Linked DNA regions of Homo sapiens: regions 2 and 3 are each linked to region 1. The links come from fine-mapping of genetic effects on gene expression. A gene starts in region 1. Each other region holds a variant in brackets. All regions are shown on one strand. Distances are from middle to middle. Region 1 holds the start of JTB (jumping translocation breakpoint). Region 2 overlaps GATAD2B (GATA zinc finger domain containing 2B). Region 3 overlaps CRTC2 (CREB regulated transcription coactivator 2).

What was found. PIP is the estimated chance that this variant, and not a neighbour inherited with it, causes the effect.
Region 2: its variant is fine-mapped to the expression of JTB in thyroid (GTEx, PIP above 0.99). The same link has a PIP of 0.9 or more in aorta, caudate, fibroblasts, left ventricle, spleen and testis.
Region 3: its variant is fine-mapped to the expression of JTB in tibial artery (GTEx, PIP 0.93).

Annotation. Positions count from the first base shown.
Region 1 is chr1:153,974,387-153,982,390 of GRCh38, forward strand. It overlaps JTB (jumping translocation breakpoint), which reads right to left and starts at 3,288. Exons shown (of 5, transcript NM_006694.4): 1 at 2,784-3,288; 2 at 2,590-2,627; 3 at 2,307-2,389; 4 at 1,440-1,519; 5 at 1-449. The coding sequence starts at 2,866. The coding sequence ends at 293. It overlaps RAB13 (RAB13, member RAS oncogene family), which reads right to left. Exons shown (of 8, transcript NM_002870.5): 8 at 7,264-7,790. The coding sequence ends at 7,713. JTB-DT (JTB divergent transcript) reads left to right here and starts at 3,357. Exons shown (of 1, transcript NR_186180.1): 1 at 3,357-4,774. RefSeq lists enhancers at 1,460-2,109, 2,759-3,407, 3,409-3,458 and silencers at 3,129-3,178, 3,467-3,761.
Region 2 is chr1:153,901,172-153,909,171 of GRCh38, forward strand. All of the region lies in intron 1 of GATAD2B (GATA zinc finger domain containing 2B), which reads right to left. Among named protein-coding and RNA genes, the nearest start is that of GATAD2B, 18 kb to the right of the region's middle. RefSeq lists an enhancer at 3,502-4,003. The variant G/A (reference allele first, on the strand shown) is at 4,163.
Region 3 is chr1:153,948,482-153,956,485 of GRCh38, forward strand. It overlaps CRTC2 (CREB regulated transcription coactivator 2), which reads right to left. Exons shown (of 14, transcript NM_181715.3): 2 at 6,584-6,685; 3 at 6,392-6,508; 4 at 5,774-5,835; 5 at 5,057-5,125; 6 at 4,785-4,888; 7 at 4,324-4,353; 8 at 4,090-4,154; 9 at 3,916-3,965; 10 at 3,537-3,781; 11 at 2,779-3,185; 12 at 634-903; 13 at 1-163. Among named protein-coding and RNA genes, the nearest start is that of DENND4B, 5.8 kb to the left of the region's middle. The variant C/T (reference allele first, on the strand shown) is at 3,215.

The DNA of each region.
Region 1 (8,004 bases):
GTAGAAGAGGGGGAAAACAAGGGAGAAGTGGTGGGGAAGACTTGGTAGATTGGGGCCTTAAGTAACCACCTCCTTTCCCTCTCTGCCCCCATGACTTCCTGCTCCAAGTTACAGAAGGGAAGGAAACCATTTTACTCTTTTTATTCTGCTCATTAATGATCTGAAAGAAGAAGATGGGGAAAAGGGGATTCCACCACAAGGCTCCAAAGAACCAAGAGTGCAAATCAGTCCATTTCACTTTCACTGTCTGAGATAGGGTCTCTAAGACCCAGGATACAAGGGTGGAATGTAGCTATATGGACTCGATTTGCTTCCGGACCTTTTCCAGAGCCTTTCTGTCCAATTGTCGCTGACGAATGATGACAAGACAAGCGAAGATCAGGGCCACACACACGACAGCCCCTTCGAACTTCCAAAATAAGCGTTGTTCCATCAAAGCTGAGCGGCAGCTGAGGGCAGGAAGGAATAGTTATTCCCAAGGAAGGCCAGACAGCTTCTCCCTCTAATTTCCCTTCTACTTCAGCCTAGCCAGGATACACTCAAGAGGAAATCAGAGCCAGGCTTCTATTGTGTGTATAGTACATAAATCCCTCTCAAATAGATCATTTAATTTATTCTCTGGATAAGCAGAGCTAGTATTAACCAATTTTACTGATGAGAAAATATGGCCAATAACATAGTGCTGAGGAGTAGAGCTGGGACTTGGGTTCAAGTAATTTGGCTCCAAATCCCGTCTTCTTTCTTATTATTTTTGAGATGGTGTCTCGCTCTGTCACCCAGACTGGAGTGCAGTGGCGTGACCTTGGCTCACTGCAACCTCCACCTCCCGGGTTTAAGCAGTTTTCTGCTTCAGCCTCCCAAGTAGCTGGGATTACAGGTGCCCGCCATCATGCCCAGCTAATTTTTGTATCTTTAAGAGAGATGAGGTTTCACCATCTTGGCCAGGCTGGTCTTGAACTCCTAACCTCGTGATCCACCCGCCTCGGCCTCCCAAAGTGCTGGGATTACAGGCGTGAGCCACCCCTCCCAGCCTCTTTTTTTTTTTTTTTTTTTTGACACACAGTCTCGCTCCATTGCCCAGGCTGGAGTGCAGTGGCATGATCTTGGCTCACTCTAACCTCTGCCTCCTGGGTTCAAGTGATTCTCCCTGCCTCAGCCTCCCAAGTAGCTGGGATTATGGGCACCCACCACACCAGCTAATTTTTGTATTTTTAGTAGAGATGGGGTTTCACCACGTTGGCCAGGCTGATCTCGAACTCCTGACCTCAGGTGATCTGTTAGCCTCAGCCTCCCTAAGTACTGGGATTATAGGTGTGAGCCCGGCCCCCTCTTCTTTCAGATATTCCATGCTACCCCCAGACCAGGGGAAAAGGTGGGACCATCCATCTAAAGTCATAGGAGCAAAGGAGGTGATCTCAGAGAAGAGAAACAGCACTCACCTTTTGAACTCATTTCTCTTAGATGAGCTGCATGTGATTTTCTCTACATATCCTGTGGGACCACACTCAGGGGTAGTTTTCTGCCAGGAGAAAAGGAGCAAAGTACATGTTAGGAAGGGGCAACAGGATAAACAAAAAGGCTGCCATTCAGAAGGTGCAGGTGCCCAACTGCTATGGTTTGGAGTGGTAGGCAACAGAGAGCTAATGAAAGAGTTCTGATGCGGATGGTGGAGGTGGTGGTTGCATGATTACGAATGTATGTTAGAACACTTCAGGGGCAACAGTCTAGGAGTGGCAAAGATACATTCCATTCCAGAGCCTACTATACTAAAAGTGAATAAAACATAGTTATTTGAGGCCGGGTGTGGCGGCTCACGCCTATAATCCCAGCACTTTGGGAGGCCGAGGCGGGCAGATCACGAGGTAAGGAGTTAGAGACTAGCCTGGCCAACACAGTGAAACCCGAGTCTACTAAAAATACAAAAATTAGCCAGGCATGGTGCAACGCGCCTTTAGTCACAGCTACTCAGGAGGCTGAGGCAGGAGAATCGCTTGAACCCGGGAGGCGGAGGTTGTGGTGAGCCGAGATCTCGCCACTGCACTCCAGCCTGGGCAACAGAGTGAGACTCCGTCTCAAAAACAAACAAAAAAACCATAGTTATCAGTTGAATACTGCCATTAGCTTGGAAAGAAAGGGGCACATTTTCAGGGGAAAGACAAGTACAGATTTGGACATACACTGAGACTGCAAGAAGAAAGAAAAAAAGATGATGCAAAGGCAGCTTAATAAGACTTGGATGTTAAGATGTTGCTTAAGTGTTTGCTTAGATGTTTAAAAAAAAAAAGGGTAGAGAAATAGATACTCACAGCCCGGAAATTAGAGCATGGAGAGCACTCTTCTGCTACCACAAACTCTTCCACCAGCCAGCATGGCAAATTTGAGGTGCTTGCTGAAAGGAAAGATAAATGCCAGCCCCAGGCCATTCAGAAAACATTTCTCCCAGGCTCTGCCCATCCAACTTCCCGGCACAGCGCTTGCCCTCATTCCATGTGGTGCCGGCCTTTTCCACCTGTGCTCTTGGTATATGGGGAAGATACTAAAACCAAAAACAAACGACGGGACGTGTCGGGTTCCCAGACAATCACCCACCTGACAGCTTCTCTTCCTGCACGGGAGCCTCTGCTTGGCTGTAGCGGAGTTGGGGGAAGGGACAAAAGTCAAAACCCAGAAAATAGGGCACCCCCTCCTGCGCTGTCCATGGATAAGATCTCCCCCAGCCCCGAGGCCGGGAACGATCCTGTCCTCCAGTGACCTCCTTTTCCCTCCCCTTACCTCCTCCTTACCAGAGCTTTAAGGTGAAAGCACAGAGCAACCAGCAGAGGTGGCGGCCCTGGGGGAGGCCAGGCCTCCCGGCACCCGCAAGCATGGAGCGCCAAGTGTCGCACCTGTCGGAACAGAGGGACCTACTCCACAGGCCTCGTGCCTCCGTCGGAGCGCAGAGGCGGCACTTACTCTGCAGCCCTCCCAGAGGTTCCAGGTCAGGGCAGGGAAGGCCGGAGTTGCCTATTGGAGCAGAGGATCTATCAGGACGTCCCCGTTGCCACAGCGAGAAAAATCGATATGTTTTTGCGGGCTAGGGAGGCGAGCGCCTTCTGCGGGGTCCGCAGGGCGCTGGAGGAAGGGCCGGCGGGGGCTCGCGGCCCTAGCGCCCGCTCACCTCCGCTCCCGCCCCCGACGCAGCCATCTAGCCCCGTGGAGGATCCTCGGGCGCGGGACCGAGCTCGGGGCCCGGTGTTCCCGGGGGCGTTCGGTCGTCGCCCGCTGGGGCTTATAGTCTTCCGCGTCGGTGGCGCCTCGCCTGCTGCTCACTGGGAATTAGCTCGGCGCCCCGTTGCATTGTGGTCTTGGTAGTCTTTGCGAGAACGGCAAATGGCGGTTGCAGAGGCTCGTCCGAATTCTCGGCTCGCTGCTCCCTGGCTGGCGCGTGTTTGTTCATTCTGGGCTAGGTGAGCAGGGACAATACGTCGCCCTCTCAGGACTTTGCTCTCTCCTTAAAACCCGAGGATTCACCGTCAAGCTTCTGGTTTCTCTGACATCCTTCCCCAGCCGCCCCTTCATCGCCACCGATGATCCAGTGGAGAAGCTGTGTTGGAGGTCAAGGGATGGAGGCGAAACTGCGCGTTCTCGTCCCTGCAGAAACCGGAATATCCGAGACACATGACGAACATGAAACTTTCTCCTTGTCTCTTGGCTCCCACTCCGCTACACAGATGAACGGTGTTACCTTCCCTCATGTTACTTTGCTAAGCCTACTCCTCAGAGCTGGTCCTTTGCATAACCTCTTCAAATGCTCTCAACTCTCCCTTGCTCCTACATAATGGAGTAATCATAAGTGCAATGAGAAAAGCATGAGATTTGAAGTTCCATAAGTATTGAGTCTAGGTTCTGGTGGTTATTAACTCCATGATCTTAGGAAAGTATCTGTCAGTGTTCTGTGTAAAACGGAAATGCTAATGTGTATTTACCAGGACTTTTTCTTGCGAGAGGCAGATGAAATGTATCTCCGTTTCATGAGTAAGTTCAGAGAATATAAGTGACTTGTCCAAGGTCAGCAAGCTAATGAGTGGGAAAGCTGAGGCTTGAGCCTAGACTGTCAACACCCAGGCCAAAGATTCATTGCCTGCTTTTCATCTTATGGAGTTAAACCTTGATACACACTCAGATCTGCAGTGACTTGACCAGCACTGTGGGTTCATGCTTTACTGTCTGATAACGAATTTTCATTTAATTTTATTTTTTTTCTTAGACAGGGTCTAGCTCTGTCACCTAAACCTGATGAGGGCTGAGCCTTCATTTCGCCGTTTTTTGTTTGTTTGTTTTTGTTTTTGAACGAGATGGACTCTGGCTATGTTGCCAGACTGGAGTGCAGTGGCAAGTCACAGGAGCCATCATAGCGCATTACAGCCTGGAACTTCTCGTCTTCAGGGATCCTCCCAAGTAGCTGGGATTTCAGGCATGTGCCACCATACCTGGCTCTAATTTTGAATTTGTTTCTTTAAATTATTATTTGTGTTTGCTGAAATTGTGTGTGTATTATTTTTGTGTATGTGTGTGAGTAGTTATATGTTACATAAAGTAGGTTGTGGGGTTTTTTCCAGTAATGTTTAGCTATAATTGAAGTTTGGGCCGAAATCTGCTAGTATTTGTTACTCCTCACCAAATCCTACCTTATCTCACAACAAACTGTAAGATCTTGTGATATTTCACTTCCAATAACCTTACCAGGCATCAGAGTGGGGTCTCTACTCTGAAATTAAATATCTGCCATAAGGTATGTTGAAGACGTTAGTCTCTTTCCCAGGAGGCACAAAGTGCAAGTCTTTTCCTCATCGCTTGAGCAAATTAAACCTACCGGACAGTTTACTACAGAACTCAAACACAGCTGGGCGCAGTGGCTCACGCCTGTAATCCCAGCAATTTGGGAGGCCGAGGTGGGCGGATCACCTGAGGTCGGGAGTTCAAGACCAGCCTGACCAACATGGAGAAACCCCGTCTCCACTAAAAATACAGAATTAGCTGGGCATGGTGCCATATGCCTGTAATCCCAGGTACTCGTGAGGCTGAGGCAGGAGAATCACTTGAACCCGGGAGGTAGAGGTTGCGGTGAGCCGAGATCACACCATTGTACTCCAGCCTGGGCAACAAGAGCAAGAATTCATCTCAAAAGAAAAAAAAAAGAACTTAAGCATAAGCCACAAATAAGGTTTATCATTACCTCATCAATGCTTGGATACTTACATTTATCAAGTTATTACATTTTGCTGTGTAAAAAATATTATGTATGGTGAAAGGGGGATATATATATATTATGTATTAAAATATGTATTATATATTATATATTAAACATAATATAATTATATATAATTATATATTAAACATAATATATTATATATTAAATATATAATTATAATATATATTTAATATATATGTATAATATATAATTATATATTATATATAATATGTTATATGTTTATAAACATATACATGTTATATATATTATATATTTCCTATATATTTAATATATAATATATATAATTATACATTGTAATATATAATATAATATAATATATATATACTTAAGGATGCTGTGCATCAAGCCTGAATTTTTTTTTTTTTTTTGAGATGGAGTTTCGCTCTGTCTCCAGGCTGGAGTGTAATGGTGCGAACTCTGCTCACAGTAACCTCTGCCTCCTAGGTTCAAGCGATTCTCCTCCCTCAGCCTCCCAAGTAGCTGGTATTACAGGCACCCACCACCATGCCCAGCTAATTTTTTTTGTATTTTTAGTAGAGATGGGGTTTCGCCATGTTGGCCAGGCTGGTCTCAAACTCCCAACCTGAAGTGATCCACCCACCTCGGCCTCCCAAAGTGCTGGGACTACAGGCATGAAACAACGTGCTCGGCCCAAGCCTGAATTTTCTTTTGCATTTCCAGTAGTTTTGCCATCTTTGTTATTCAGCAAAGAGATGTTTTTGTTTTCGTTTTTGTTTTTTTGAGACAGAGTCTGGCTGTGTCACCCAGGCTGGAGTGCAGTGGTGTGATCTCAACTCACTGCAACCTCTGCCTCCCAGGTTCAAGTGAGTCTCCTGCCTCAGCCTCCCAAGTAGCTGGGACTACAGGCGCCCTCCACCACTCCTGTCTAATTTTTTTTTTTTTTTGTATTTTTAGTAGAGACGGGGTTTCACTATGCTGGCCAGGCTGGTCTTGAACTCCTGTTGTGATCCACCACGCCCAGCCAAAGAGCTGTTTTTGTTAAAGTTTGCTTGTCCCAGGCTGGGCGCAGTGGCTCACGCCTGTAACCCCAGCACTTTGGGAGACTGAGGCAGACTGATCACTCGAGCCCAGGCGTTCAAGACCAGCCTGGCCAACATGACAAAACCCTGTCTCCACTAAAAACACAAAAGTTAGCCAGGTGTGGTGGCACGTGCCTGTAATCCCAGCTACTCGGGAGGCTGAGGCAGGAGAATCGCTTGAACCCGGGAGGCAGAGGTTGCAGTGAGCTGGGATCGTGCCACTGCACTCCAGTCTGGGCGACAGAGCCACACTCGGTCTTAAAAAAGAAAAAAAGTCCTTGTCCCTCTGCTTGTAAGTACCACCAAAGGGCTATATTAACTGACTATTGGCCAGGCATGGTGGCTCACGCCTGTAATCCCAGCTACTTGAGAGGCTGAGGCAGGAGGCAGAGGTTGCAGTGAGCTGAGATCGCACTATTGCACTCCAGCCTCGGAGACAGAGCAAGACTCTGTCCCTAAAAATAAATGAATAAATAAATAAAATAACTGACCATTGTGCCTGGCACTTAGTAGATGCTCAATATACATATATGAATAAATGAACTTCTCATTTTCCTCACTAATAAAAGCAGATATTAATGCCTATCAAATAACTAAATGGATTGCTGGCAGAATCAAAGAAGCTTGCACAAATCACTGGATAAATCACTAGGTGCAGTTATTTCCCTGAGGCTAGGACTGTTAGAGTTCTTCTCGCTGGGAATTTCCTGTGCTCAGGACAAGGCTCTGCCCACAAGGGCATCCGGACCCCATGGCGGAAAGAGGATATCCAGACCTTCAGATCACTCTACCTCCTGCTCTTTGCTATTTTCCTTACCAACAGAACAGCTAGGGAAGAGACAGCAGTAGGATTAGTCCTGGTTCCACAGAAACCGAGCCTGATTTGGGTAAATCAATCACTTTGAAGACACAATAATTGGATTTGAGTGGAGAACAATTCTGACAATAATCCAAGTTACCCAAAACAGGAACATTTGTGCAAATGGTGGCCTTTAATACCAAGAAAGACCATGACAAGTGACAGAACAGGAGCAAATTCCCTAGTGTAGTGCCGAGCTAGCCTTTTGCAGGACCCTAAAACCTGATCTAGTAACAGAATAAATCAGTGTATTTACATTTATGTTTGCCCTGAAAACCCAGGTAAGGTCTGAAGCCTGAGGCATCTCTCCTTCCTTTCCTCCTCCCTCTCTTCCTACCTCCTTGCCTTCTTTCACTTCCTCAATTCATTCCTCTCCCTTCTCCCTTCCTCTCTCTTCCTTTTTTTCCTTTCTGCTTTTCCCTTTTCTCCTTTTTCTCCTCATTCTCTTTACCATCTACCTATGTGACCCTCCAAGCCCCTCTGCTATTTCTCCCCTGCTCACTCCCTCTGCCGTTGTCTCCCTCAGGTTCAGCTTCCGGGGTGGGGAGGCAAGAAAGGGTCCTCAGCCCAGGGAGCACTTGTTGGTGTTCTTCTTGTCACAAGTTTTCAGGTCAGTACTGGGAGGCTTGTTGCCGTTTCCCTAGAGGGAGAAGGGCACAGGTGTCATGGTGTGAATGGATGGTTAGGGTAGGAGGGTATAAACTGTTTAAAGTAAATCCACCCTCATGAGAAATCTTAGCATTGCTCCCCGTTTTTATCAACACCAACACACACACACACACACACACACACACACACATACATACACACACACACACCCCAGAGTTGTACCTAGTCCAGCAAAACCAACTTAC
Region 2 (8,000 bases), 73 kb before region 1:
CCACTGAACTCCAGCCTGGGCAACAGAGCAAAATTCTACCTCAAAAAAAAAAAAAAATTTATATGTTTGTATGTTAAGGCTGAGGCACAAGAATCGTTGGAACCCAGGTGGAGAGGTTGCAGTGAGCCAAGATCATGCCACTGCACTTCAGCCTGGGTGACAAAGCAAGGCTCTGTCTCTAAATAAATAAATAAAACTATCACATCTCCAAGGCAAAATGAGAATCAGGAACTTTAATAACGAGAGTGATGCGTAGAGGGGAAGTGCATTAGAGTTAAATTTATTCAAGATGAGACTTCACTGGACAACACCATTTTGATACTTCCATGAAAGTTAACTAGCTGATTGATTTTTCTTTGGTTAAAATGTCCAACTGCGCCCGATGGCTCACACCTGTAATCCCAGCACTTTGAGAGGCCGAGGCAGGTGGATCATCTGAGGTCAGGAATTTGAGACCAGCCTGGCTAACATGGTGAAACCCATCTCTACTAAAAATACAAAAATTAGCCAGGCATGGTGGCGTGTACCTGTAATCCCAGCTATTTGAGAGACTGAGGCAGGAGAATCACTTGAACCCAGGAGGTGGAGGCTGCAGTGAGCCACGATCGTGCCACTGCACTCCAGCCTGGGAGACAGAGCAAAACTCTTGCTAAAAATAAATAAATAAATAAATAAATAAATAAATTAAATAAAATGGCCCTGGTGTCTACAGCCATACCACCCTGAACGTGCCCGGTCCTGTCTAAAATGGCCTTGGGGCAACAGGGATAATCAGGAGGAGAGCAGGGGCCAATCAGACTCCGTCTCAAAAAAAAAAAAAAAAAAAAGGCCGCGCACAGTGGTTCACACCTGTAATCCCAGCACTTTGGGAGGCTGAGGCAGGCGGATCACCTGAGGTCAGGAGTTCGAGACCAGCCTGACCAACATGGAGAAACCCCATCTCTACTAAACATACAAAATTAGCTGGGCATGGTGGCACATGCCTGCAATCTCAGCTACTCAGCAAGGCTGAGGCAGGAGAATCACTTGAACCCAGGAGGCGGAGGTTGCGGTGAGCCAAGATTGCGCCACTGCGCTCCAGCCTGGGCAACAAGAGCGAAACTCCATCTCAAAAAAAAGAAAAAAAGAAAAAAAAAAGAATTTTCAGGATTTGGTAAGCCTATCATACTTACAGCCAAGGTGTAAAAAGTGCTGAATGAGGGTATAATTCCTACTTAAGGGGTACTTGTTCCTAATATGCAAGTTACTTAATTTACAAACATATTATACCTAGTATTATAATTATTGTATTCCTTTTTTTGAGACAGGGTCTCACTCTTGTCACCCAGGCTCGAGTGAAGTGGCTCAAACATGCCTCAATGCAGCCTCAACCTCCCGGGCTCAAGGGATTCTCTTACCTCAGCCTCCTGTGTAGCTGGGACCACAGGCACATACCACCATACCCTGCTAAGTTTTCTTATATTTTTTGTAAATGGGGTCTCACTTTGTTGCCCACTCTGGTCTCGAACTCCTGGGCTCAAGCAGTCCTCCCACCTCAGCCTCCCAAAGTGTTAGGATTACATGTGTGAGCCACCAAGCCCAGCTGCAGTCTTTTAATACATGTAGTCTTTAGTCTACTGACTGCATCTTCTTGTAATTTATCTTTATATCCTCTAACGTACCTATGTTTATATCTTTTACATACTACTTTACATAGTAGGCATACAAGAAATGTTATGTGGAGGCCTTTGCAGTTTCCCACAACCAGCAGATTTAAGTGGTTACAGCCGGCCGCGGTGGCTCACGCCTATAATCCCAGGACTTGGGGAGGCCGAGGCAGAGGGATCACAAGGTCAGGAGATTGAGACCATCCTGGCTAACACGGTGAAACCTGATCTCTACTAAAAATACAAAAAAATTAGCCGGGCGTGGTGGCGGGCGCCTGTGGTCCCAGCTACTCGGGAGGCTGAGGCAGGAGAATGGAGTGAAACCAGGAGGCGGAGCTTGCAGTGAACCGAGATCGCTCCACTGCACTCCAGCCTGGGCGACAGAGCGAGACTCCATCTCAAAAAAAAAAAAAAGTGGTTACAAAGTAAGCAGCTCTGACAAGCAGGACAAGAGACCAGACCCAAGTTTTCTCTCTATCAGAACAATTAACTATCATTTTTCGAGACAATAGGCCTAAGACAGAGAAAAGCATCTGGAATCTTCACTCCAGAAATTGGAAAAATAAACTCATATCATTGCTCAGAGCCCTGGATTTTCTGCCATAGTTTGAGATTCAGGATTACAGATGAAATTATAAAATAAGACTTCATGAACTAGGCAATCAGCATTCCTAAACTAAGTTTAAATACTTTAAAGTACTTTTGAGTACTAGTAGTACTCAAATTGTTCAATGTTAACAAAATAATAGCGATGAAAATCATTAAATAGCAGAATTGTAAGCAACAGGAAAAGTACAGAATTTCTGTTAACAGGACATATTACAATATACCTAAATACTCTTTACCATATGCCTAAATATTCTTTCCCAATAAAGTTCTAACATTGGCCAAGTGTGGGGCTCACACCTGTAATCCCAGCACTTCGAGAGGCTGAGGCGGGCAGACAGCTTGAGCCTAGGAGTTGAAAATCAGCATGGGCAATATGGCAAATCCCCTCTCTACAAAAAATACAAAAAATTAGCTAGGTATGGTGGCACGCACATGTGGTCCCAGCTACTTGAGAGGTTAAAGTGGTACAATCACCTGAGTTCGGGAAGTGAAGGCTGCAGTGAGCCGTGACTGCACCACTGCACTCCAGCGTTGGCAACAGCATGAGACCTTGTCTTAAAAATAAATAGATATGCCAGGCCCGGTGGCTCACGCCTGTAATCCCAGCACTTCGGGAAGGTAAGGCGGGTGGATCACGAGGTCAGGAGTTCGAGACCAGTCTGGCCAACATGAAGAAACCTCAGTCTCTACTAAAAATACAAATATTAGCCGGGCGTGGTGGCAGGCATCTGTAATCCCAGCTACTTGGAAGGCTGACGCAGGAAAATCATTTGAAACTGGAAGACAGAGGGTTCAGTGAGCCAAGATTACGCCACTACACTCCAGCCTGGGTGAAACACTGAAACTCCATCTCAAATAAATAAATAAATAAATAAATAAATAAATAAATAAATATTAGCTTGTATATGTATAAAGAAACTCTAATATGATAGAAATGGAAAAACAGTGATGGGGTTTAAAACTAGGAAGTTAAAAGACAGTGACAAGAAAGTTTTCACTCTATATCTTAATTTTTTAAAATGTGAAAACAAACTTTAAAACAAGAAGAAAGTGCTCCAACCATAACAAAATGATTCATTTATAAGAGCAAAGATGTATGGAGCAACATAATTTTTCTTTTTGTTTTTCTTTGAGAGACAGAGTCTCGCTCTGTCACTCAGGCTGGAGTAGAGTGGCATGACCTCATCTCACTGCAACCTCCACCTCATGGGTTCAAGCAATTCTCCTGTTTCAGTTTCCCAAGAAGCTGGGACTATAGGCGTGTGCCACCAGGCCCAGCTAATTTTTTTTTTTTTCTCAGACAGAGTCTCTTGCTCTGTCACCCAGGCTGGAGTGCAGTGGCACATCTCGGCTCACTGCAATCTCCGCCTCCCTGCTTCAAGCAATTCTCCTGCCTCAGCCTCCCGAGCAGGTGGGATTACAGGCGCCTGCCACCACATCTGGCTAATTTTTCTATTTTTAGTAGAGACGGGGTTTCATCATATTGGTCAGGCTGGTCTCGAACTCCTGACCTCAGGTGATCTGCCTGCCTTGGCCTCCCGAAGTGCTGGGATTACATGCATGAGCCACCGCCCTGGCCCTAATTTTTGTCTTCTTTAGTAGAGACGGGGTTTCACTATATGTTGGCCAGGCTGGTCTCGAACTCCTGACCTCAGGTGATCTGCCTGCCACAGCTTCCCAAAGTGCTGGGGTTACAGGCATGAGCCACTGCACCTGGCCAAGAGCAACACAATACATAAAGAAAAATACCCAGCCTGACCAATATGGTGAAACTCCGTCTCTAATAAAAATACAAACAATTAGCCGGGCGTGGTGGCAGGCGCCCTGTAGTCTCAGCTACTTGGGAGGCTGAGACAGGGAGAATCTCTTGGACCCGGGAGGTGGAGGTTGCAGTGAGCAGAGATCAC[G/A]CCACCGCACTCCAGCCTGGGTGACAGAGCCTGACTCGGTCTCAAAAAAAATAAGAAAAATACAGTGATTCAAGGGCCTAGGTGAAATAAAAACTATCTATAACTGAGCAGAATCCCATTCAGATTTTTAGCCCAAAGTAAAAAACTATGTGAAAAGAAAAACCCATCCTAAAATTCATATGGCATCTCAAGGAAGCCCAAACAGCCAAAACAATTTTGGAAAAAAAAAAAAAAAAAAAAAAGAACAAAGTCAGACGACTCATTCTTCCTGATTCCAAAACTTACTACGTAACTACAGTAATCAAAACAGTGTGGTAGCCCGGCATAGTGGCACCTGCCTGTAATCCCAGCTACTCGGGAGGCTGAAGCAGGAAAACTGCTTGAGCCCAGGAGTTTGAAACCATGCCTGGGCAACATAGCAAGAACCAGTCTCTCAAACAAAAAAAAAAAAAGCCGGGTGCAGTGGCTCACGCCTGTAATCCCAGCACTTTGGGAGGCCGAGGTGGGCAGATCACCTGAGGTCAAGAGTTCGAGACCAGCCTGGCCAACATGGTGAAACCCTACCTCTACTAAAAATACAAAAATTAGCTGGGTGTGGTGGCATACATCTGTAATCTCAGCTACTAGGGAGGCTGAGACAGGAGAATCGCTTGAAACTGGGAGTCGGAGGTTGCACTGGGCCGAGATCACGCCACTGCACTCCAGCCTGGTGACAGAGGGAGGTTCCCTCTCAAAAAAAAAAAAAAAAGCTCCCCTCCCCCGCACCCCACACACACACACACAAAACAGTGTGGGGCCAGGCGTGGTGGCTCATACCTGTAGTCTCAGCACTTGGAGAGCCAGAGGCTCTCTTGATCTCACTTGATTTGAGGTCAGGAGTTCGAGACCAGCCTGGCCAATATGGTGAAACCCCATCTCTACTAAAAAATACAAAAATTAGCCAGGTGTGGTGGCGTGTGCCTGTAGTTCCAGCCACTCGGGAGGCTGAAGCAGGAGAATCACTTGAATCTGGGAGGCAGAGGTTGCAGTGAACCAAGATTGTGCCACTGCACTCCAGCCTGGGCGACAGAGCCAGACTCTGTCTTAACAACAAAAAATTAACACAAAATATTGTTCTTTTACAAGTTGCTGTAACACATTTACAGCAATACAAAAATGATACAATACAAAAAGTAAATTTAAAAAAATGAGAAAAAACACAAAATAAATGAAAGACTAAACAGAAGAGCTAACACTCTTAGATGCTTCATGATGTTGGACTTGACAATGATTTATTAGACACCAAAAGCACAGGCAAAAAAGGAAAAAAAAACAACAGATAAACTGGACTTCATCAAAATTAAATTTTTTGTGCATCAAAGGACACTACAGAGTGAAAGGGCAACCCACTGAATGAGAATCATATATGTGGATAATGGATTAAAATCCAGAATATACAAAGAACTCCTACAACTTAGAAACAAAAACAACAACAAAAACCCAATTAAAAACTAAGCAAAGGATCTGAATAGACATGTCTCCAAAGGAAATATACGAATAGCCAATAAGCACCTGAAAAGATGATCAACATCACTAATCTTAGGGAATTACAAATCAAAACCACAATGAGACAGCACCTCACATCCACTAGAATTCCTATTCAAAAACAAACAAACAAAAAATAATAACAAGTGTTGGCAGGGACGTGGAGGGACTGGAACCTTTGTGCATTGCTGACAGAAATGTAAATGATACAGTTACTGTGGAAAACTGTAACAATTACTCAAAAACCGAATTATCATGAATTATCATGATCTAACAATTTCAATTCTGGATATATATCCTATACGCAAAACAATCGAAAGCAGGGACTCAAGCAGATATCTGCCCAGTCATGTTCACAGCAGCCTTGTTTGCAACAGCCGAAGGCGGAAACAATCCAGATATCCACCAACCGATGAATGGATAAACAAAATGAGATATTTACATACAAAGGAATATTATTCAGCCTTAAAAAATGAAATTCTGATACATGCTACAACATGGATAAATCATGAAGATATTTTCAGTGTAATAAGCCAGACACAAAAGGACAAATGTGGTATGATTCCATTTATATGAAGTACCTGAAGTAGTCAAATTTATAGAAACAAAGTAGAATGGTGACTGCCAGGAACTGCGGAGAGGGGAGAATGGGAGTTATAGTTCAATATATACAAAGTTTCAGTTTGGGAAGATGAAGAAGTTCTGGAGATTAATGCTGGTGTTGGTTACACAACATCAATGTATTTAATGCCACTAAACTGTATACTTTAAAAGGGTAAATTTTTTTTTTTTTTTTTTTGAGATGGAGTCTCGCTCTGTCACCCAGGTTGGGATGCAGTGGCGTGAGCTCGGCTCACTGCAACCTCTGCCTCCCAGGTACAAGCAATTCTCCTGTCTCAGCCTCCTGAGTAGCTGGGACTACAAATGCCTGCCACCACACCCAGCTAATTTTTTTTGTGTTGTTTGAGATGGAGTTTTGCTCTGTCACCCAGGCTGGAGTGCAGTGGCATGATCTCGGCTCATTGCAACCTCCGCCTCCTGGGTTCAAGCGATTCTTCTGCCTCAGCCTCCTGAGTAGCTGGGATTACAGGCATGCGCCACCACGTTCAGCTAATTTTTGTATTTTTAGTAGAGACTGGGTTTCACCATGTTGCTAAGACTGATCTTGAACTCCTGACCTCATGATCTGCCTGCCTTGGCCTCCCAAAGTGCTGGGACTACAGGCGTGAGCCATCACGCCCAGCCTAAGATGGTAAATTTTATGTTATGTACATTTTAACACAAACACACACTCACGCACGCACACATCTATGTGCCAGGTTTACCATTATCTTTTTTACAAGAATGACTAACAGGCTGGGTACCATGGCTCATGCCTGTAATCTCACCACTTTGGGAGGCTAAGGTGGGAGGACTGCTTGAGCCTAGGAGTTTGAGACTAGCCTGGGCAACACAGCAAGACCCCATCGCTATAAAATTTTAAAAAATGAAAAGTAAAACATAACTAACATTTACTGGACATTTACAATCTGTCAGGCACAGAGAAGTTAAGTAAAAGATCTTACAACTAACTAAACGGTGGAGCAGAAATTTGAACCCAGGACTTTTTGACACCAGAAACATACTTTTTTTTTTTTTGAGACGGAGTTTCGCTCGTTGCCCAGGCTGGAATCCAATGTCGCAATCTTGCAACCTCCGCCTCCCGGGTTCCAGCGATTCTCCTGCCTCAGCCTTCCCAGTAGCTGGGATTAGAAGCATGTGCCACCACGCCCAGCTAATTTTATGCTTTTAGTAGAAACAGGGATTCTCCATATTGATCAGGCTGGTCTTGAACTCCTGACCTCAGGTGATCCGCCCGCCTGGCCCTCCCAAAGTGCTGGGATTACAGGTGTGAGCCACCGCACCTGGCCTAGAAACATACTTGGAAAAAAAAAAAAAAAAAAAAGAAAGAAAGAAAGAAACAAGGTTGTGTTTTATCCCCAAGGCTGGAACACAGTGGTGCAATCCTAGGTCACTGCAGCCTCTAACTCCTAAGCTCAAGCAATTCTCCTGCCTCAGCCTCCCAAAGTGCTCTGGAACACGGATTACATCTCAGCACTTTAGGAGGCCGAGGTAGGAGGACTGCTTGAGCCCAAGAGTTCGAGACCTGCCTGGACAACACAGCGAGATTCCCATCCCCACAAAATTTATTTTAAAAATTAGCTGGGTATGGTGGCATGTGCCTGTGGTCTCAGCTACTTGGGAGACTAAGGCGCAAGAATCACTTGAGCCCAGGAAGTGAGGGCTGTAGTGAGCCATGATCACACAACTGCAT
Region 3 (8,004 bases), 26 kb before region 1:
AGCCATGGCGGGAACAGTGGGTCAAGTTCTGGTGGTTGAAGGTGTGGGGATCCTGGGGGCCACCCATTGGCCCCTCACCCCCTAAAAATCCAGGCCCTTCAGAAAAGCCAGGGGGATCCAGCACCAGGCTGGCTGATGGGCTCTCCATGCTGAACTGCTCCAGCTATAGACATACAGACAAATCTTTAGGAAGTAGGATTTAGAACTGGTGTCCTGCCTAGCCCTGCTAACATATCCCCTTTGCCCAGCAACCTTCATCCACCCCAGGAACAGAGGCAATGACAGAGGGAGGTGGCAGCAAGCAGAGCGACAGAAGCGAGCACGGGGCCCGAAGTAAGTATGGGCACCGTACCTGCTGGGCCAGAGCATGTGCATGCCAGGAAGAGAACGGGTCAAGGCAGAAGTCATCAAAGAGCAAGCTGAGCAGAAATAGAGGGGCAGGAGTAGGGTCAAACGCAGGAAGAGAGGAGCCCCAAGCTGGCAGTGCTATGTTACCTCCGGGGAGAGGAGATCTCCCCACCACCCACCCCACCTAGATCTCCCCATTCACAGTGCACCAGCCATGCCATTCAGGCCCCATTGACCCACCCTCACCCACTCCCCTGCTTTTGAGCAAGGAGCCTGAGTACTCACATTCCCCAGGTTGAAGTCACTCATTGGCCGGTGGTAAGACTGTTGCCCATGCCCACTGGGCCCAGGTGGGTACGGTGTCCCATAATGAGACTGCCTGCCTGGGGGCTGCCCACCTGAGGACTGCACTGAACAAGACTGAGAGGGCAGCCCTGGCTGCTGTAGAGACTTTGGGGTGTGGGGCTGGGTAGGCAGAACCAGACTTGGGGAGCTGTATGGGTATGGGGGTAACCGCTGGTCAGTGGACAGTTTACTGGTATCCAGGGGGACGCCCTGAAAAGAAGTAAAAAGAGGGAAGCTTACTGCTCAGTGTATACCCCAAGAACTCTCAGTCAGAGCTTCCCACCTTCTTTAGCTACAACCATTCCCAAAACAAACATGACAACATTCCACATTCTCACGGGCATCCCTGGGGTTGAGTGCAGTTACTCAACCCCAGGGATGTGTATTAGTTGGCAGGGTGTGGTGGCTCATGCCTGTAATCCCAGCACTTTGGGAGGCCCAAGGCAGGTGGATCACCTGAGGTCAGGAGTTCGAGACCAGCCTGGCCAACATGGTGAAACCCCGTCTCTACTAAAAATATAAAAATTAGCTGGGCATGGTAGCAGGCGTCTGTAGTCCCAGCTATTCGGGTGGCTGAGACAGGAGAATTGCTTGAACCCAGGAAGTGGGAGGTTGCAGTGAGCCAAGATCACACCACTGCACTTCAGCCTGGGCAACAGAGCGAGACTCCGTCTCCAAAAAAAAAAAAGTGCCTATCAGAATGAAAGTGATATAGTGAGGCTAACACAGGGGTAATTTTAAATCTACTCCAGAAGTAAACTATTCTCTTTTTTTGAGACAGGGCCTCACTCTGTTGCCCAGGCTGGAGTACAGTGGTGCAATCATAGTTGGAACTGTAGCATCAACCTTCCTGGTTCAAGTGATCCTCCCATCTCAGCCTCCCCAGTAGCCAGGACTACAAGCGTGCGCGACTGCACCTGGGTAATTTTTTATTTGTTGTAGAGACTGGGTCTCACCATATTGACCAGGCTAGTTTTGAACTCCCGCCTTGGCCTCCCAAAGTGCTGGGATTACAGGCATAAGCCACTGTGCCTAGCCTTAGAAGTAAACCATTCTTAAATCTTGATACTTGAACTATTTATTGTTAGTAAATAAGGAACTAAGGTTGAGAACTGCTGTTCTACAGCCTTGAAGAGGCCAGAGGGGGTGGGAAAAGAAAGAAAGAAAAGGAGAAAGAAAGGAAGGGAAGTCAAGCTCACTCCACACTCTGGGAACAGAGCCCTTGCTAATCTGGCCTCAGTCTTTCCTACAAAAGAGGGGACCTGAGTAAAGATGGAACACAGAACACACATTCCAGGGATAGCAATGGAGGAGGAAAAGTTGGGCAGAGGAGAGGGAAAAGAGCATTTGGATGAAAGAAAAGAGGAGTAGAGATAGAGAACAAGAAGAAAAGGACAGGAAGGGAGACAAGGGCTAAGAATTTCATCTCTGTGGAAAAAGCCCTAAACTAAGAGCTTCGAGTTCTAGTCTCAACTCTTCCTAACTTGCTGGGTAAACTTGGAAAAGTCACTTTCCCTCTAGGTCCCACTTTCCTCATCTATTAAGTGAAGGAATTGGGCTCCACAGTAGGAAATTGACTGATTCTACGAATTCTATGAAATTAGGAGGGGATACAGGGGAGGAGACGGGACAAGATAGAGGCATGAGATAAAAGACAGATATAAAACAGACAGGAACAGAGGAGGCAAATAAAAGGAAAGGGTAAGCTACTATTTGTCAAGCATACCTGGGCTATGTGTGGTGCTAAGTATTTTATGTATGTTACTTCATTTGATCCTTATGAACCATCCTTGTTTTAGAAATGAAAATACTGAGGCTTATAGAAATTAAATAACTTGTCCAAGGTGACTGCTAGTAAGAGGTGGAGCCAGGGTTTGAAGCTAAAAAAGCTTAACCACAGCGTTTGGGTTTGCACTGTGAAGCAAGAGGAGACAAGATGGATAAAAGATGGGGCAGGCGGAGGACAGAGGAATGGAAGGGGATGAGTATAGAGTAGGTATTTCAGGAAAGGAGGGTGGGAGGGAAACAACATGGCAGGAGAAAAGGGAAGGGAGACAGACATGCAGGGAAGGCAGCCACGCATACCTGAGTGATGGAAGACAAGGTGGGTGACATTGTTGGCGAAAACTGTTTGGGCAGCTGCTGTTGGGACCTTCTGGCGTCGGCTGGGCCCGCGAGCAAACTCAGGGGGCTGAGGGGCACACGGCGGTGGTGGGGGGAGGCCCCAGGGGTAGAAGCAGGGTAAGAGGGGGCGCCCAAAACAGGAGATGAAGTGGAGGAGGAGGAAGAGGAGGAGGAGAGAGCCGGAGCACTGAGTGAGGGGTGGCCCAGGGAGGTGGTGGGCAGTACATGGCGGGCCAAGGAGGAGGCAGGCAGAGAGGGGTGGCTGTGGGAGCCCTGAAGCTGGGGCTGAGGACTGCTCAGGGAAGCCTGGAGGTTGGGATTGCTTAGGGAGGACTGCAGGGATGGGTGGCTGAGAGGTGAATGAAGTCCTGCAGGCACAGACAAAAAACCAGAGATG[C/T]CAACATTACTGATGGGAACTGAGCCCCTTTCCACCCAGAATGGGTGGCAGTGACCAGACTATGAAAGCGGCAACACAACGTCCTCCCTACTCTATCCCTGACAGCACTGCCCATCTGGGGACTGCCCTTCCTCTTCTTTCTAGGAAACACCACACCTACCAGTTATCACTGGCTGAGAACTGCCGTGAGGGAATCCTGGGGTGCAGAGGTGACAGGCGGTGTGGGTGATCACAGCAGGATCTCAGGTGCTCAAACCTACCTCCCCTTCATCCCTCCAGTCAGGCAGCACCCAGTGGGCACATGGCCAGGACAGTCACTCACCTGGTGCATCATAGCCTGGGCCCAGGCCCATGCCCCTGCTGATGCCCAGGTGAGTCATGGTGTGGGTCAAATTGGAGGTACTGTTGCCCCCACTCAGGCTAGGGTAGGCTGTCTCTTCAGGGTCCAGGGGGGTGGGCAGTGGTGGGGGAAAGTGCAGGTTGGTGAGGTCAGGTAGGGAGCCCCCCGTGTTCATGGCAGGTGGGAGGACAGGCACATTGGCAGGCTGGTCAGGAGATGGAAAGATGCTAGGGGAAGGAGAGAAAAAGAAAGATGTAAATAGGAGGGTGGGTGCAGTGGTCAGGGAAGAGCAGAGATCAGTCTCCTACATCTCCCTGTACTTCCTTCCCCCACCTCTCAGCCAACCTCAGGGAGTACTTACTTAATTCCAGGGACTTCACAGGACCGAGGTCGGGAAGAGGATGAGGATAGCTGAGGAGAGAAGGGAGAATATGGAAAATGAGGACAGTGCTCAGCAGAGAACCCTGGAAGGCCTGCCCCATGGCAAGGGGATAGCAGAGAGACTAGTGGGTGACACCCGGTGGCCTCCTCCTACCTTCTTAGCATCCCATGGCTTCAGCAAATGCTTGTCATCTAGCAAGTTCTCCTCAATAGCAGGTACTTGAAAGAGAAAGACTGGTGATGGGAGAGTTGGAGAAAGAGCCAGTAAGGCAGGACAGGAAGCAGAAGCAGGTGGGAAGGAGTCCTGCTCCCTGAACCTGCACACAATCCCAACACCAGCCCAGAAATTCTTTGGCATTCAGTACCCACAGCAGTGAGGAACACATACCTTTGGGGTCCATTTCACCATCCAGAATACCTGCAAGGGATACAGTGGCATTGGCTGCAGTGCTCACTTGCCTACCTGCTTTAAATAGCTCCATGGAGGCCGGGTATGGTGGCTCATGCCTGTAATCCCAGCACTTTGGGAGGCCGAGGCAGGTGGATCACGAGGTCAGGAGTTCAAGACCAGCCTGGCCAAGATGGTGAAACCCCATCTCTACTAAAAACACAAAAAATTAGCCAGGCACAGTGGCAGATGCCTGTAATCCCAGCTACTCAGGAGGCTGAGGCAGGAGAATCGCTTGAACTCGGAGGGCGGAGGTTGCAGTGAGCCGAGATCACGCCACTGCACTCCAGCCTAGGCGACAGAGTGAGACTCCGTCTCAAAAAAGAAAGAAATAATAAATAAATAAATAAATAAATAAATAGCTCCATGGTTACTCCCAACCCTGGGACAGGGCCACTTACCCCCACGTCGGCTGGGCAGGATGCTGGGAGGTGTGGGGCCTGGGTAGGTATCCTGGGGACTGGGGTTCATCACACTTGTATGAAGGGCAGAGTCAGAGCTTGTCCTATGGGGGGAGCAGGAATGAGCTGACACCAGTGACAGTCTTCCTGGTCCCTAAGCCCTGCCCAGCAAGGGAAAACACTAGCTGGTCTGGAACAGGGTGGGGGTGAGGGAGCAGGGCCCCAGAAACTACAGATAAGAGATCTGGCCTAAAGAAGGCAAAAGCCATCACCTGTTAAGTGCAGATGGTAGTCGAAACAACTGCCCCTTCTCTGCAGGGAAATTGCCCCAGGCCATCGTCCTGGGGTAGAAAAACAAAGTCATGAGGAGGAAGGCTGGCAGTGGACAAGAAGGTGGGCATAGGGGTTGGAAAATGTGGGGCAGCTAAGGTGGAAGTAAAGATGGCTGAGCACCCAGATCATCCCCTTTTCTTTCTGGTTCTTCTCCTGCCTATGATTGACCCCTCCCCCAGTCAATCTAAGAGAGCTGGAAACTTCTCTCTGCCAGGACCAGCTGAATGGGAATCTTGGAGCCCAGCAGCATTCCTGGGTATGAGCATTGAAAGTGAGATGGACAAGGGGAGAGTTTAAGAAATCTAAAAGTGCCAGAACACTACATCTTGCACCCACCCTTGACAGAAGGTTGCCATTTTCACCTGCCCCTCTGCCATTCTCCCCTCCCCCTTACACACACACCCCAGCCTGGCTATGGTTCCCATTGGTTCTGCTCTGGCTGGACTGGGAGGCTTGACCACTAGTGTCAACATGGCCAAGGCTGGACTCTGACCCACCTACTCCAACTGTCTCCACCTCTCTCAGCCCTGGCGTTATAGGAAGAGGTACTGTTGAAACCTTAGCCCAGTAATCCCAGCCCCAACCCAGAAGGGGCAACTCCTTCCAGAAACACGTCAGAGAGTAGGCAGGAGCTTCTGCCCGCCCTGGACACTTACCTTCGCCAGCTAGACTCTGGGGGAGGAGATAAGTAGGCAGGACTATAGGGAGAGCTGTCAATGTGAACAGCACCAGTTAAGGAAAAAAGTAGAGAGGACAGATGAGAGAGGCCAAATGAGGAAAGAACAATGAAGGCAGCAGATAAGTTGTTTCAAGAAACTCATACCTTTCTCCTCTTCTATAAGGGACAACAATAGGATCAAAGAATGGAAGAGAAAAAGGGAATCAGGTCTAAAGGGGCTGAAAAAATCCAGGAGAATGTTCAGGCAGGGCTTGGAGGAGACAGTTATGCAGGTCTCTGAGACTGAAAACTTAGAAATCTGAGAAGAGACCCAATCTCCTTTAGCAGGAGACAAGGAAGGCTTGCCTCTGGCAGCAAGCTGATGTGAAGACAGCCAGAGCCAGCCAGAGACAGGGGGCACAGCCTCAGGAGCAAAACTCCTTGTCACAGGAGCAGGTGCTGACGCAGGGGCTATGGTCGCTTTTCAGGGAAGCTGGGTAAAGAAGAGCTCCAAGAGAAGGAAGGGACGCACAACACTTCAAGTGCTTCCTATGAGTCCCTGAGGAACCCCATCCCACTACCTTTCAGACACTCCCAAGTCCCCTGTGAAGGATATGTGGCGGGTGTATCGGCGAAGTGGGGACACCATTCTTCGAGGATCTCGCTGCACCCGTTCCACCAGCCCATGGTGCCGAGTGCTCCGAGATGAATCCAAAGGTGAGTGGAGGGGGCTCTGCCAAAAAGGACAGAAGTCAGCAGAGGAAGCAGCCTAAGAAACTCCACTCCTCCCTGGCTGGGGTCTACTCACCTGGAACTCGGCCAGGCCAGAGCCAATCTGGTTAACATTGGGCAGAGACCCACCATAATGAGAGCTCCTTGTGTATGCCAGTCGCAGTTTTTGGGCCTGTAACTGAGACATGGGGAACAAGTGGGAATGTCAGGAGGGTCCTGAGCACTATTTCCTTCAGCCATCCTTGCCATCTCTGTCACCAGGATATGCTGCTGCCGCCACTGCTTTTAAAATATCTAGGCCAGGCACAGTAGCTCACACCTGTAATCCCAGCACTTTGGGAGGCCGAGGCAGGCGGATCACAAGGTCAGGAGATCGACACCATCCTGGCTAACACCGTGAAACCCTGTCTCTACTAAAAATACAAAAAATTAGCCGGGCGTGGTGGCGGGCGCCTGTAGTCCCAGTTACTCGGGAGGCTGAGGCAGGAGAATGGCGTGAACCTGGGAGGTGGAGGTTGCAGTAAGCCGAGACTGTGCCACTGCACTGCAGCCTGGGCAACAGAGAGAGACTCTGTCTCAAAAAAAAAAAAAAAAAAAAAGGATCACTTCAGCCCAGGAAGTAGAGGCTGCAGTGAGACATGTTTATGTCACTCCACTCTAGCCGCCTGGGTGACAGACTGAGATCCTGTCTCCAAAAAAAAAAAAGTTAAAAAAAAAATAAAGAAATTATCTGCCAGAAAAAAAAGGCCAGTGTTGGGGTTTGAAAGGTCCACCGAGATTTGGTGCAAATAACCCACCAGAGCCCATCTGCAGACTGCCCTCATCAATGATATCACTACTGCTTGACATCATCCTGCCAGGCAGAGACAGATACTCTGCTGAGGGCCTGTCTCATTTGGCATCACTCTAAGCAGAGTCCCTGAGGGGCTGCCAGGAGCTCCCGGGCTACTCACAAGGGGGAGTGCCTATTAGGAACCTCTGCTTTCTTTCCAGATGCGTCCAGGACTAATTGAGAGATTAAGAGGAAGGCCACAGGTGGATGTCACAGAGCCATTACTGCCAGCCTCTTTCCTTCCCACTCTGGAGAGCACAGGCTTCTGGGCTCTGCCACTTGCCCAGCCTCAGGAAGGCTACACAAAGCCTGCACCTCCCAAACTAGAACATCCAAGGAATAGCAGCTCTCCTAGCTGGAAAAACAGCACCAAAACCAAGGGACATTCTTCCACTGAATCCTAAGGCTCTTGAATTGGCAGGGAAGCCTGGAGAAGGAGGGTGGACAGAGAGCAGCAGCCCACTCCAGCATGGGCCAGGGCCATCTTCCTGGTCTCATCCTCACTTTGGGGAGCTATGTCTGGCATAGGCGTAAGACAGCCTGGCATGGGTTTAGCCTGTGTACAGACATCCTGTCTCTGTGAGAGGTGAGCATCTATTTCCAAGGCTCAGCCCCTGCGACCAGCCAAATAAACAGGCCCAGGGCAAGGCCATGGGGAGGAGGGC